2 separate regions of the Homo sapiens genome follow, and region 1 is linked to region 2. A link means that fine-mapping ties the variant in region 2 to the expression of a gene that starts in the linked region. Tissue or cell type: whole blood. Region 2 holds a variant in brackets; the other region holds the start of a gene. All regions are shown on one strand. Distances are between the middles of the regions.

Evidence for each region. PIP is the estimated chance that this variant, and not a neighbour inherited with it, causes the effect.
Region 1: ARHGAP12 starts here. The variant in region 2 is fine-mapped to the expression of ARHGAP12 in whole blood (INTERVAL, PIP 0.98).

What each region holds. Positions count from the first base shown.
Region 1 is chr10:31,925,531-31,933,637 of GRCh38, reverse strand. ARHGAP12 (Rho GTPase activating protein 12) reads left to right here and starts at 4,807. Exons shown (of 20, transcript NM_018287.7): 1 at 4,807-4,955. LOC107984219 (a long non-coding RNA gene) reads right to left here. Exons shown (of 3, transcript XR_001747415.2): 1 at 5,595-8,107; 2 at 4,816-4,976. RefSeq lists a silencer at 4,636-5,135.
Region 2 is chr10:32,061,058-32,069,164 of GRCh38, reverse strand. No RefSeq gene overlaps it. Among named protein-coding and RNA genes, the nearest start is that of KIF5B, 8.7 kb to the right of the region's middle. The variant C/AC (reference allele first, on the strand shown) is at 4,855.

The DNA.
Region 1 (8,107 bases), 140 kb after region 2:
TAAACAGGAGTCCTCATAACCAGGAAGAAAAACGTATTCATCTTAACCAAGTCTATAGCAAGGAGGGAGAAAGTTCCCCTAAACAGAAGATTTCATAGCTGGTAGCGGGGAAGGATGCCTCCCAACCAATTCCCAAATAAAACTGAACTAAACCAAAAGAAAAAATATGAGTTCAAGCCAACAGAGACTCACCATGGGGAAAAGAGGTGGCTCGTAGAAGTTTGGGGGCTCAAGAGGCCTGAATTTGGGTACTTCATGCCACATTCCAGGTGCTAATTCTCCAAGGTGAGCCTGCTTTGGATCCCACTTCTGACTTCAAGTATGTAGAAATCAAAATAAAATATAGAGATGAATCTCTAAACATCTTATTTGGGAATCACAGAATTGGAATTTGGGATATATATATATATATATATATATATATATATATGCACATACAGGTGGTCTTTGGTATGCTCAAAGAACAAAAAGAAGGTTGGTAGTTTATTAGAAGGAGAAATGTTATGTTTTGTTTTAAAAGAAAGCTCACTGCTACTGGAGAAGCTTTGGGGAGCTGGCAAACTCTGATTGCTGAAGACAGCAGTAGGTAACACTAGTCTATGAGTCACAGTAGGTCATTTCAGCAGCTACTAGGTAAAACTATTCTTATGGTTACAGCAGGCTGTTTTAGCAGCTGGGCTTGCAGAAAATTTAATTTTTGGAGCTGGTGCTATGTGCCCTGAGTGATTTTTCCCCCCACTCCTGGACTCTTTGAGTTAGTTGGGTATGACAAGAATGTCCTAATTTGTATAATCAACTATTACAAGTACTAATTATTATTATTATTTTTTGAAACAGGGTCTCCCTCTGTTACCCAGGCTGGAGTGCAATGGCACCATCTTGGCTCACTGCAACCTCTGCCTCTCGGGTTCAAGCAATCCTCCTGCCTCAGCCTCCTGAGTAGCTGGGACTACAGGCGTGCACCACTATGTCCAGCTAATTTTTTGTATTTTTAGTACAGATGGGGTTTCACCATGTTGGCCAGACTGGTCTTGAACTCCTGACCTCAGGTGACCCACTTGCCTAAGCCTCCCAAAGTGCTGGGATTGCAGGTGTGAGTCACCACACCTGACCACAAGTACTAATATTTGTCTTTAATAATAGTTAAAACTGATCATATGAATTTATATAGTGAAAGCAGTGAGATTTCACAAGAAAATATTAATAAATCTCCTAAAACCCTTAAAGATGTGTTATGCAAATCTGACTGCTATTGTACTCATTATTCTCTTTGAGATTTCTGGAAATTAAGCCCACAAATAAATATAATCAAATACTGAAACATATCAGACAAAATCATTTACAGGGCATCTGTGTAACCCATGGAAACAAGAAGCAGTTGATATTACAAAATGGGTGAGTGAACAGATACACGAGAAACATATGCCTTTAGCGTTTTTCCCAAAATATATTTTGTTGACCTTAATTAACAGACAAATGATCCATGAAATTCTAATTTTATTGTTTAAAATGGAGGATCCAATTTGTTAAAACTTGTTCAAGGAAGGCTCTACTAAACTTGAAGAAAAATAGAGTACTTCTGAAAATTTATATACATTTGATAAAATGTATACTAAGCCTCAAAATAAATGTACCTGGATTTTAAATTATTACGGTAAGAAACAGACATCATTCAATCTGAACAAAAACTCTGAGGTTTTCAAAAGTTTGCCTATGAGCACTAGCTTACCTGATTTTATTTATTTATTTATTTATTTATTTATTTGAGACATGGTCTCACTCTGTTACTCAGGCTGGAGTGCAGTGTCACAATCTTGACTAACTGCAACCTCCACCTCCTGGGTTGAAGTGATCCTCCTACTTCAGCCTCTGGAGTAGCTGAGACCACAGGCACACACCACCATGCCTGGCTATTTTTTTTTTTTTGTATTTTCATTAGAGATGGGGTCTTGCCATGTTGCCCAGGTTGGTCTTGAATTCCTGAGCTCAAGCAATCTGCCCGCCTCAGCCTCCCAAAGTGCTGGGATTATAGGCATGAGCCACTGCACCCAGCCTCCTTGATATGTTTATTTTACTCAGGTAAACTTTTATAAAACAGAAGAAGCCTGAATGTTTTAATAACAACAACAACAACAAAAAGATGCCAGAAAAATTTTAAACATTTTCACTATTTGAATAGATAAAACATTCTGAAATTTTGAATATCAAAAAGTTTAAATATGAATACAATGAAGTCTATTTCTTATGCTTTCCATCTACTGTGTTCTCATACCTCATGTTACTTTGTCCTAGTTTAATGCATATACAATTTAATACAATATTCTGTACCGTATTTCTGTGTTTTTCACTTAACAAAAAAATCTTGGAGATCTTAATGTTAAAACAAAGAACTTTCTGTTTTTTTGATTAACAGCTGCACAATGTTCAAACATATGGCTCTATCATAATTTAACTAGTATCCTGTTGATAGATACTTAGCTTGTTTCCAATCTTTTGCTATTCTCAACAATAAGAAACACCTTGTTATTTCTTATGTGTGGAAACATCTGTGGCATAAATCCCTGGAAATGAAATTCAAGGCTCCGAGTATATATGCATTTGTAATTTTAATACATACTGCCAAATTCCTGTTTCTTTATAGCCCAGCCAAAGTAGTGATGCCAGATATAATTTTGTTTTTTCATTTAAAAATATATAATGAAAAGTAGGTTACTTATTAAAGAACTAGGAAGAAAGTAGGACAAGTTTATGCAAAGTACAGACTACATTTTCACCTAAAAATACATTTAACAGGAATCTATTGTGCATCTACCGTATGCCAAGTGCTTTTAGGCACTTGGGATATACACACAAACAAATCAGACTCAAATCTCTGCCTGTGTGTGGAGCTTATATTTCAGTTCTACATTTTGGAACTCTCTGCTACTTCATAAGAAGCCAGTTAAATGTCAAAATCCTGAAAATGATCTGTTGAAATCCTGAGCACAGGCGCCAGACATATGCTACAAGTGTTATTTAAAAACTAACTAGAGGCAGTGTTACATATGATCATAGCTCTCCATCAGGTTCTTTTAAAACAACACACTAGCGAGAAAGCTCTTTTTATCCGCCTCCATCTGCTGTTGGTGGTGATCAGCATACTGTGGGCATTGTGGTATCATCCGAGATTAGGCTGTGAAATAGGAAGTGGGGTTACAGGCAGATCCGCAAGTGTATGCAAACTGTTGAGTTCTATCTCTTGCTAAAACCAAGGGTGCCCAATTCAGGTTTGGAGAGTAGGGAAAGTAAGGTTATCAGCGCATTCCTATCAGGGTCGTTTTCTTTTTTGCACTGCTCTTGTTCTGGTTTTATAAGGAGAACACAAGCAGAGTCTATGGAAAATAGTTGCCAAAGCATACAGGAAATACTCCTTATACTGAACAAATGCAAGAAAACAGAACGGGTTAGAAACCGAGGGAGACAAAAAGGCAGTGGGTGCCAAGGACTGTGAAAAGCAAATGCAACGATAGAGACAGCACAGTCTCAGGCTTATTTTTCAAAAATTCTCATTGTAAGCCTCTTTCCTTTCTAAATGGAGACTATCTTAACACTTTAGCTCGCATTAGACTTAATTTAATAAGAAGGTTGTAAACCACAGCTGTTAAAGTCTTGCCACTGCCCTACCGGATTCTTCGCATCCTGTAAGGCACAATTCGGAGTTCAGCTGGTTGATAAGGAAGCCAGGCATTGTGGCATCTTCAAGTACGAAGTGAAGCACAGGAAAGAGCCAACTCCGGAGAGTAGCTCTTCATTGCTTGAATCATACATATGCTTGTTTTTTCCCCCCTCTCCTTTCTGGTCTCTATTATTAACAAATATTTCATCCTGGCACAACAGGCACAATCAACAACTGGTTAAGGAATGAGTAGTTACTGAAGTCCCAACGCCTCTCAGTTATTTTTCTCACACTCACTGTATTCTAGACCTAGAAGCCAGCTCTCATTTGAAAGCTGAGGTTCAGAAGGGTGAAGTGCCAATAAATGGCAGAAGCCAGGTCTCTTTCCTGATTCCCATTCCAGCTGAGCTCCTCCTGCCACTGGATCACCATCAAAGACCTGCCAAAGCTGTTACTTCCGGGTTCGGTGCTGCCACAGTGCAAACGGGGATGACTTTGGACAATGACCCTGTGGCCCCCGCAGGGCTCGCACCCTCAGGCCCGTGGAAGGCTAAATGCTGACGGACTGGTTCTGCCCTGGAGCGGCTCTCCGCGTCCCAGGGGTCTCCTCAGTCCCGAGTGTGCACAGCGGGTCCTGCCACGTACCCTGGCGACCCCAGCAATGGACTCAGTGCCCCGGGTCCCTTTCCGTCTCCCTCAGGCGGCGTGCAGCACTTTTTCGGGTGTCCCAGTGGAATTTCCGGGCCCGTGAACGACTGACCCACGCCCGGCCGCAGCTCCAGGGGCCGACGAAGGGAGCGCTAGGGCCCACGGCAGGGCCGTCTTTGCCCGGGCTCCATTCCTGCCACCCTGGCGCTATGTCCGCCCTTCCCTGGTTTTCCCTACGAGCGTTTTTTTAACGCTTCCCACTCCTTGTTTACAAAGTGCTGAGCCCCCTTGACCGCAGGCTCCCGCGCCGGCCCGAGTTCCCACACCGTACGCTGGCTGCCCCCTATTCGGATCCCCGCCGGGCGCCGCACCCCCTAGCCACCCCAGACCGTCCCGGAGACCCGCGCCCGCCCAGCTCGCCCGGGCCATCACGTGAGCCTCCCGCCCCGCCCCCGCGCGTCACGTGAGCCCCGCCCCCGCGCCGGCGCGCTCCGACGTGCCCTGTAACTTACCCTCCCTCAGAGGCCAGCCTGCGGGGACGGGCCGGCCGCGGCCGTAGCCGTGTGAACGCTCTTCGGGCTCGCGTCGTCGACCCGCAGCCGCGGGGCGGACTAAGAAGGGAGCCGCCTGCTGCGAGGCCGCCGGGCTCCCGGTGAGGTGCAGGGCGCGGGTCCTGGCGGACGGAGGGCAGGTTGGCGAGGCGCTGCACAAAGGCGCGCCGGGGCCGGGCTGTGCCCGCCGAGGGCGGTGGAGTCGGGGGGAGGCGTGTGCGGGAGGCGCGGCGGCGGCGGCGGCGGCGCCGCGGAGGTGCGCGCAAAGGGAGGTCGGGCGCGCAGCGAGGGGCTCTGGGCGCGGGGGTTAGGCGCCGAGGGGGAGGGGGCCGGCGCAGCCTATTGGCTGACGTGGGCGAGAGGGTTTAAATGGCCCGAAGTTGTGGCTTCTCTGCCCCCTGGGTTTCCTGACTTCCTGTGTGAGGGCAGCGCCCGCCCGCCCCGCCCCCAGGGAGGAGAGTGTGAGGGTGCGCGGGTGTGTGTGTGAGTGCGGGAGAGTGCGCGCGTGTGTGCACAAGGCGGGTGTGTGCGTGTCTATGTGCAAAAGGCGGGTGTGTGCGCGCGCGTGTGTCTGCAAAAGGCGGGTGTGTGTGTGTGTGTGTGTGTGTGCGCAAAAGGCCGGCCCGGCCCCTCCCGCGCCCTGGGCCCACTCCCTAATCGCGGTGGGGCTTGCAGGCCTCCACCCACCCGGGGAGCCCACCCGGGGAATCCACCTGGGGCGTCCCTCGAGGACTGTTGACCTTAAACCGGACACTTTCTTCTTTGCGGTCTTTCCCGGTGCCCTGCCCCTGCTGGATGGACGTGCATTCGCTCCCCTCCAGCTTATCTGGGCGGAATCTCCTCAAAGTCCTTGAATTGAAAAATCCTCTTTACCAGCGTGCAGCCCGCCTCCCATCTCAGGGGAGCTGGTTGTCTTCTCAGAACGGCTGTCCTTTACGCGTTGCTATCTTAAGTGACTGCAGACCCTTTGAGAAGAAATGGCCACACGGTCTTCGTTAGAGAAAAAGGCACGCCCTTCAGCTTTCGAGGCGTGTGATGTTTTCCTTTTGACTGCAGCTGCAGTTTTGTAAATGTATTTTCAAAGGCTAAAGCACGACGTTGAAAGTACACCTTTATCGAAAGTTTTAATGTCATCCCAAGTGGAGTGTTTGTTGTGGATAGAGGCTTTTAGCACTCTAATAACACGATTGGTTGTGGCTGGCTTTTGGGTTAATCATGACATTGAGAAGTAGATTTTATCGACTATTTAGGCATGCGTTCCTAAAGGGAGGTGGTGGAGGAAGGAAGGCTCACTCGGGTTCTGATTCAGGTTCTGCCACCCGACTTCTAGAGGTTAGACCTTGGGAGACTCCGGGTGTTTCAATGGAAGTGTTAAAAATAAGTATCTAGCCCCTAGCCACGCCTCTTTCATACTTAAAAGTCGGGAACGATGGCCTAGATGTGTGTGTACTTGCCCATATCGCCTTTTCTTTATCTGTAGGAGGGTGTTTTACAGAATCGGTCATCTTCCTCTACCTCCTCTGGTCTGAATAGGCATTTTGGCTATTTTTATTTTGCCTTGGAAACGTTTCAGAGCTGGGTTTTGAGAGCCCAAAGCAGGCAGTGAAAGCGTGACCCCCACCCATGCCACCTGACGAGCCAGACCGTCTGCGCACATATGTGCGACCCCTGGTTGCATGCGGCTCCACTGTTCTAAAAGTGTTTCTCTGTGGGGGAAAAAGAAACCCCAGAAGTGTAATATAATGTGTGTATGTATATTTATGCGCCAATATTTGTTGATAGATTTCTGTTCGTACTTCATCAAGCTGGAGAAGACTGATGACTCATTGATTGTTAAGATAATGCCGTCTGTATAGTTAGTTATATATATATTAGTTGTTCATATATAATTATCAATACATTGCATCTCTTTCGGTTTTATATTTGCTAATACCAGTTGTTTCGAGGTGCAAATGAAAATAGATTAAGTGCTGTAGAAAAACAGCATGTTACTTGTAGTTAATCATTTGACTTTTCTTTAATTAGAAAGAATCTGCTCAGTGGTTTTTTAGTAGGCTGATAGAAAGTGAACTTTACAAATTTTTAAGTACTCTACGTAAGTGATATTACTGAAAATAATACGGGTGATTAAAATTTTTAAATGGAGTAAAAACTAAATAGTGGTGATCTGTTTAACCATTAAACAGTAGTACTAATATTTTACTTACCTGAGAAAATGGGCATCACAGTTTTACAATAAATCATGGGAGAGAAAAGTGAAATTAAACTTTTGTCCTGTATTTAACAATTTTGGCTAGAATTGCAAATATGCACTATTTTGTAGTATGAATCAGATGTGAAAGGTGTCGTAGTACGACATAGCATCACTGTACTTCAAATCGGGCTTTTCAGATTACCTCTTTTGAGGAACCTATTGGGCCACTATCCTTGTGGTTTTTTTTTTTTTTCTTCAGTTAGCTGGCCCCGGCTCATTGGTATATGGCTTTGCTGTGATTCAGCCATTTCCCTATTACTTTCATTGACTTCATGGACTTAATGAATATTCTGCAGTTTCGTTTTGTAATTGATTAGCTCTTTAATTGAACTGAACTGCCAAATGGTGTAGTCTCTAAGCCTCCTTCCCCTGTTGATAATCTAGTGCTTCTCAAATTTTAACGTGCATAGGAATCACCTGCACTTCTAATATCCACTTGGTCATATGGATGCTGTTCTGCCAGACCACAGACCACTGCTGTCCAATAGAAATGTAATGCCTATATAAATTACTTGTGCTTAAAGTTTCTAGTATTCACATTATAAAAAGTAAGCACGTGGAAAAAAAGTGAAATAAATGAATATATTTTACTTAGTATATTCACAATATCATTTTAACATGTAATAGGAAAATTATTAATGAGATATTTTATGTTCTTTACATTGGACCAGGTTTTTTGAAATATCAAGTGTGTTTTACACTTAGAGCATTTCTCAATTTGCATTAGGCACATTTGACTAGTGACTGCTGTATCGAACAACAGTTTTGGAGTCTAAAAGTGTAGACCAATGTTACTCTTAGTGTATTTTCAGATTGGCCTCATCAGCAATCCTTGAGAATGTAAATTTTAGGGCCCCACCTCATACCGGTTGTTGTTAGAATATCTAGGGCTAGAGCCTGTAATCTGTGGTTTGAAAACGCTCTGGGATATGGCTATACAATGTATATGTGGTATTCTGGATGGGACCCTGGAACAGAAAAAGGACATTAGGAGAATAC
Region 2 (8,107 bases):
TGAGGCAGAATTGCTCGAACCCGGGAGGCGGAGGTTGCTGTGAGCCGAGATCGCACCACTGCACTCCAGCCTGGGTGACAAGAACAAGACTCCTTCTCAAAAAACAAAAAACAAAAAACAAAATCAAGTCTTCGCAGAAATAGACAATATAAAGGCTTCCTAAGTGTCCTGCAACACTGGTGTTGTAGATGCTGTGCTGTGCCGCCCAAGCGCCCAAATTCCCAATTTATGACCGAGGCAGTGGCGGCTTTCAGTCTCCTTGGGAATTCCCTTCTACAGAAGGGAGCTGCTTCATCTAAAATTATGTCCATTCCCCAGGGACAGCCAGCCTGCGAGGCCTAGCCCCTTGTCCCAGTTAGCACTGCCATCCCTGCTCCAGGGATTCCTCCATGAGATCGGCTGAGGCCTCCGTGCCAACTGCATCACAGTCCAACGTCCCTGCTTAATCCTGCTGTTGACAGCTCTCCCCAGTTAACCTTCTGCAAGCAAATTTCTGCCTGAGACACTTCTCCACATCAAACTCAACCTAAGACACACGGCAAAATTCTTTGATACAATTAAAGATAACCATTTTTGGCCGGCGCAGTGGCTCACGCCTGTAATCCCAGCACTTTGGGAGGCCTGAGGAGGTCAGGTTTGAGACCAGCTTGGTCAACATGGTGAAACCCCATCTCTATTAAAAATACAAAAATTAGCCAGGCATGGTGGCGTGCTCCTGTAATCTCAGCTGCTGGGGAGGCTGAGGCACAAGAATCACTTGAACCCACGAGATGGAGGTTGCAGTGAGCTGAGATCATGCCGCTGCACTCCAGCCTGGGCAACAGTGACACTCCATCTCAAAATAATAATAATAATAATAATAATAATAATAATAATAATAACAATTTTTATGTAATTGTAGATTACTACTCTATTAATTGGGTTTAAGTGAATGCACTGGTTGTGGTAACATTCCTGCCAGTTTTCTTATAAATCTGTCTGCTTAATTCTAGGTGTGTGGACTTGGCTTTACAAATGTTAATTTCTGTAGGCCGGGCACTGTGGCTCATGCCTATAATCCCAGCACTTTGGGAGGCCGAGTTGGGTGGATCATCTGAGGTCAAGTGTTTGAGCTACTCAGGAGGCTGAGGCAGGAGAATCGCTTGAACTCAGGAGGTGGAAGTTGCAGTGAGCCGAGGTCGTGCCACTGCACTCCAGCCTGGGTGACAGAGCAAGATTTTGCCTCAAAAAAAAAAAAAAAAGAAAGAAAGAAAGAAAGAAAGAAAAAGGAGTCTGAAAAAACAGTCTGAAAAAAATGTAAAATGTATACGTCTTGTTTTCTAAAAATAGAATAAATTAGCTTGTCAAATCACAGTAAAAATATGAATAAATAGGAGAGACTCTCCAGTTTATTTCTCAATTATGTCCATTCTCCTTATAATTACTAATTATCAGGTGACTTGCTGAGCAAGAATGAAACCTTGGTCATTGAAGACATGAGGATGCTGGGAGCGGTGGCTCATACCTGTAATCCCCACACTTTGGGAGGCCAAAGAGAGAGGATCACCTGAGCCCAGGAGTTGGAGACCAGCCTGGATGACATAGTGAGACCCTGTCTCTACAAAATATTTTAAAATTAGCTAAGTATGGTGGCACATGCCTGTAGTTCCAGCTACTAGGGAGGCCGAGGCAGGAGGATCACTTGAACCTAGGAGCCTGAGGCTCTAGTGAGCTGTGATTGAGCCACTGCACTTCAGTCTGGGCAACAGAGCAAGACCCTATCTCTAAAAAAAATAAAAAATACAAAAATATATGAGGGAAGCTGCTACACCTGGTCAACCAATGGTACGTTTAACCTAACGTTCTGCATAGAGAGGCAAGTTTTGTTAAACATCTTGGCAGTGATCCCTGATATCAACTTTAAATTGTCAGGAAAGTTTTCCAAAATATCCATTATTTGTGCTCTCATGGCCCTGCTTTTATAGAACCTATCCCTATGGTTTCTACTATCCTAACTCCCCCACTAGAATCCTGGTCTTTTTCAATGGGAACCTGTTCATAATTTTATCCCACCAACTTTTGAGCAGAGCATGTTAATTAATAGGCACTCGTTGAATTCCAATTTCAATCAGTACAGAGGACTTATTAGCATTTGTGAGATCCTGAGCACTGAGCTAAGCATTGTTGAAGGAAACGAGCCATAGTCACTGCCCTCAAGTAACTTATATCCTCGGAGTGACAACATAATTAAACTGGAGACCCAGATACAAACTGTGGCAAATTAAATATGGGAGGTTGAATATTCACATTTCTCTTCAAACCCCCTGAAGCTCCACTAAAATGTTAGTAAAGAAATACCAGGCCGAGCGCGGTGGCTGAAGCCTAGCCTGTAATCCCAGCAATTTGGAAGGCCAAGGGGGGCAGATTATTTGATGCCAGGAGTTCGAGACTAGTCTGGCCAACACAACGAAACCCTTCTCTACTAGAAATACAAAAATTAGCCAGGCGTGGTGGCATATACCTGTAATCCGACGTACTTGGGAGGCTGAAACAGGAGAATTGCTTCAGCCTGGGAGGCAGAGGTTGTGGTGAGCCGAGATCGCTCCACTGCACTCCAGCCTGGGTGACACCATGAGACTCTGTCTCAAAAAAACAAAAAAAACCCAAAAAACCCCAAAAAAACAAAATGCCAAAGCCTAAAGCCACGATATAAAGAAAACTTGAAAGAAGACTATCAGCAAACAGGATTTCAACAAAATGTTGGAAATGTGTAACTACCTAAATAGCCTGGAGAAAGCTAAAAACCTAAGCTTGCAGGCAGAATGTCAATAAGTAAGTTAATTCTCTATATAGAACACCAGACAGCCTCGGGAAATGTAGACACCAGGAGGCTGAGGTGCAGGGTAGAGCTGAAAATAGGAGGGTTTAGTTAAAAATGTATATAAAGATCTGTTGGAATGCAATTTCCCCCCCACCAAAAATGCCAGAAGATTGTCCTCTCCCCCAGCACAACAGAAAGAAGGAAGCTCACTCTCTCGAGAAGTTGAACCAGGGAGGCTGTGGACTCAGGGACATCACACACACAAAGATGGGGTGAGTCGCCTACTGAAAACAGGGAAATAAAACCTACAAACTGAATGTTAAGATTGCGTAACCCCATCACTTCTGAGAAAACTGGCAGCCAGACTTATGTAAACCTGGCAAAATATTAGAGAACTCCTTTCTAGGGAAACCAACCAATTCAAAAGAAATGTTATAAAACCACATTGGGTCTACACCACCGAAAAAGGTCTATAGATTCAATGCAATCCCTATCAAAATACCAATGACATTCTTCATATTAATAGAAATTTTTAAAAATCCAGAAATTCATATGGAACCACAAAAGAATTTAAAGTAATCTTGAGCAAAGAGAACCAAGCTGGAGGCATCACACACACTACCTGACTTCAAAATATACTACAAAGTTATAGTAACCAAAACAGCATGGTCCTGGCATAAAAGCAGACACATAGACTGGTGGAACAGAATAAATAGCTCAGAAATAAATCCACACATTTATAGCCAACTGATTTTCGACAATAGTGCCAAGAACACACAATGGGGAAAAGATAGTCTCTTCAATAAAAGGTATTGGGATAACTGAGTATCCACATGCCAAAGAATGAAATTAGACCCTTATCTCATACTATATTCATAAACCAACTAAAAATGGATTAAAGATTTAAATGTAAGACCCAAAACTATGAAACTACTAGAAGAAAACAGGGGGAAGCTCCCTGACATTGGTAGGGGCAATGTTTTTTTTGGATATGGCCCCAAAAGCATAGGCAACAAAAGCAAAACTATTTTTAGATAAATGGGATTATGTCAAACTAAAAAAGTTCTGTACAGCAAAGAAAACAATTAACAGTGGCTGGGCACGGTGGCCCACACCCATAATCCCAGCACTTTGAGAAGCTGAGGCTGGTGGGTCACCTGAGGTCAGGAGTTCAAGACCAGCCTGGCCAACATGGCGAAACCCCATCTCTACTAAACATAACAAAAATTAGCCAGGCCTGGTGGTGCGCACCTGTAATCCCAGCTACTTGGGAGGCTGAGGCAGGAGAATCACTTGAACCTGTGAGGCAGAGGTTACAGTAAGCCAAGATCATTCCACTGCACTCCAGCCTGGGTGATGGAGTGAGACTTTGTCTCAAAATAAAAATAAAAATAAAATAAAAAAGACATTTAGAATTTTCCTAATGAAATGGCTAGTTCCTGCCCAATCACACCTTGATGAAACCCATCGATCTCTAAACCCTACCAACATGCACAAGGTTTTCCAACATGTTTTAGTTTCTCACTCAAGTTGTTAGAATATCAACGCCCACCACTCATGTGAGGAAATCCTCTGACATGAGTGACAGATTCCAGAGAAAATTTGGGAAACAAAAGCTAAATAAAAAATAAAACATGCCAGGGGTGGTGGCTGATGCCTGGAATCCCAGCACTTTGGTAGGCTGAGGTGGGTGGATCGCCTGAGGTCGGCAGTTTGAGACCAGCCTCACCAACATGGAGAAACCCCATCTCTACTAAAAATACAAAATTAGCTGAGCGTGGTGGCACATGACTGTAATCCTAGCTACTTGGGAGGCTGAGGCAAGAGAATCGCTTGAACACGGGAGGCAGCGGTTGCGGTGAACTGAGATCGCACCATTGCACTCCAGCCTGGGTAATAAGAGCAAAACTCCGTCTCAAAAAAGATATATATATTATCTGAATAATAAGAGAAGATATTGGTCTGTGAATAGAAACATTTCATGTAAAACATCCATTTGGAGAATTAAAATCCAGAGAGTTTTACACACACACACACACACACACACACACACC[C/AC]CCCATAGGGTGGGATCAGCACATCGAAGACATTTTTTTGTTTGTTTCAGACAGGATCTTTCTCTGTTGCCCAGGCTGGAGTGCAGTCGTGCAATCACAGCTCACTGTAGTCTTAACCTCCCCAGGCTCAGGCGATTCTCCCATCTCAGCCCTCCAAGTAGGTAGGACTACAGGTGCATACCACCACGCCCAGCTAGTTTTTTTGTATTTTTTGTAGAGATGGGATCTTGCTATGTTGCCCAGGCTGGTCTTGAACTCCTGAGCTGAAGTGATCCTCCTGCCTTGGCCTGTCAAAGTTGTGGGATTACAGTTGTGAGCCATCATGCCCAGTCCATCCAAGAGATATTATCCTCCTAATTACACACACACACACACACACACACACACACACACACATCGCCAATAGAAAACAGTTGAAAATAAAGTTAAGAGAATATCTCCAAAAGGAGAACAAGAAAACAAAGAAAAGGAAAATAGGAAAGAAAAGAGGAATATAGACAAAAAGAGACTAAAAGCTGCCTGGAAGAAAAATTCAGATCACATACAAATGATTAGGACTCAGAATCAGACTTAACAAAAGGAGCAATACCTTCAAAATATCAAGAGTAGCTTTATACTGCTGGTGGCTATTTGGAATGTGTTAAGAGTAAACTGGTAGAAAAAGTTAGGCAATTTTTAAATCCAGAAAAACACAAAAAGTTGTACAAGGTAGGCAATGTAATTATAGTGCACTACATGGCTAAGCTGGGAATAATATTATGTAGCATGTAAATGCTGTATATTAATTTAACTAAAAATAGTGATAGAAATATATATTGAGAAGATAAAGAGAAGAAAATACGTTGATTCAGATGGAGGCTAGTGTAAAGGAGCTATAACCTCATTTAATAATAATAATTCATAAGTCAAGAAGCAGCAATAAAATCATGTTATTTAGAAACATGGAGATAAATACTAGAAGAAATTGCTAAAAGATTTAAAGTAGTTGCCCTGGAGAACAGAAATGGAGGTTGGATTGAACAGAACCAGAACTTCTATTTTTCAGGGTTGTAGTGTAGTTTTCACTTTTTAAACTATGAGTGTGTTTCTTTGATAAAATAGAAAAAATATATAGGTTCTAAAGAGTTAAATGAAGCTGGATGTGATAGTGTGTGCCTGTAATCCTATCTACTTGGGAGGCTAAGACAGGAGGATCGCTTGAGCCCAGGAATTTGAGACCAGTCTGGGCAACACAAAGAGACCTCGTCTCAAAAAATTAAAAATAAGGCCAGGCGCAGTGGCTCACACCTGTAATCCCAGCATTTTGGGAGGCTGAGGTGGGTGGATCACCTGAGGTCAGGAGTTTGAGACCAGCCTGACCAACATGGTGAAATCTCGTCTCTGCTAAAAATACAAAAATTAGCCGGGTGTGGTGGCAGGCGCCTGCAGTCCCAGCTACTCAGGAGGCTGAGACAGGAGAATCACCTGAACTTAGGAGTGGAGGTTGCAGTGAGCCAAGATAGCGCCACAGCACTCCGGCCTGGACGACAGAACAAGACTCCATCTCAAAAAAAAAAATTAAAAATAAATAAATAAATAAATAAATTATGGTATTAAATACCATGTAGGAGTTTTCTCTCTGACCTCTGAAATAATTCTGTGTGGTACAAACCACTTGCAGAAGGTGGGACCTGAGGAAAGACGGATGGGATTTGGACAAGCACAAAGGAGAGGGACATACACAGTGAGATCAGATTGGCTTTGAAATTAGCAAATTATAATGAAGGACAGTGAAAAAGACCAGTTTCCAGGAGTTAAGAATGTAAGTCGTGGAGCAGTGGAAAACCCTAGTTATGTAATGGGGAGTCAGTGCTAGAAGAAGGCCTTGGAATCCAAGCAGAGGAATTTGAATTAGTTTGAGTAGGAAAAAGGGGCGTTGTTGTAGGTTCTTGAGTAATGAAATGATTTAATAAAGGTAATGCTTTTGGAGACTTAATCTGAAAATTTCATGCAAAACAGTGGATATGGGAGGAATTGTTTAGTCTTTTTCACTATCGTATTCCTATAGTCTATCTCAGCACCTGGACCATAGTGGGAACTCAACCTATAGTTACTGAATGTTCGAATGGGAAAGAGGCTGAGACCTCCCGTAGTAACCTCGGCCTGAAGTAGTGAAGCCTTGGACCAGGATGGGGTCCTGGAGCTAGAAAAGAGCAGGTGTGTCTTATTCAGATTTGAAAAAGAAATGCTATAATTTTCTATTCCAAAAGCCCATTTCTGGTCATTTCAACTGGAAATAGTAAACAAATTTTCTTACAGTAATAATGTTAAAAATAAACATACTTTTATAAATGTACTTATAATAAATAAGTACATTTATTTTTAAACAGTGGTGATGTTCTTAGATTCCCTCCAACCATTTAATTTATAATTAATTTAGAATATAGCCCAATCTAATACATTTATTACACTTTTAGAGGATTATTTCCAGGAGAAACATTTTAAGTTCCAAATTTTAGGTTATCATTCGAGGGATCTACTGCTATGTAACAAATGATTCAAAATGGAGCAGCTGAAAACAATAACCATTTTATTATATCTCATGATTTTATGAGTCAGGAATTAGGACAGGCCTTAGCTGGGTGATTCTTCTACTCCAAGCGTGTTAATTGAAATTACTCACTGGTATTCAACTGGTGGGTGTGCTGGCATGGATAGTCCAAGATGGCTTCACTCACAAGTCAGGTCTCTGGATGGAAGGCTGGGATCAGCTGAGACCATTGCTTAGTGCCCACATATGGCCTCCCCAGCATGGTAGTCTCAGGGTGGTTGGTCATCCTAGATGGCAGTTCAGAGCTCCTAGAGTATTCCAAGAAACTAAGGTGGAAGCTGCAAGCCTTCTTCTCACCTAGTCTCAGATAGCATGTGGTGTCATACTTCTGCCACATATATTGGTTGCAAGTGAGTCATAGGGCCAACCATGCAAGATTTAAGGAGAGAGGCTGCACAAATCTGTGAACCCAGGGAGGCACAGTTCATCAGAGACTAACTTCCATAGTGGAGTTTTTTTTTTTTTTTTTTTTGAGACGGAATTTCACTCTTCTTGGCCAGGCTGGAGTGCAATGGCAGAATCTCAGCTCACTGCAACCTCTGCCTCCTGGGTTCAAGCGATTCTCCTGACTCAGCTTCCCGAGTAGCTGGGATTACAGGCACCCACCACCATGCCCGGCTAATTTTTGTATTTTTAGTAGAGATGGGGTTTTGCCATGTTGGC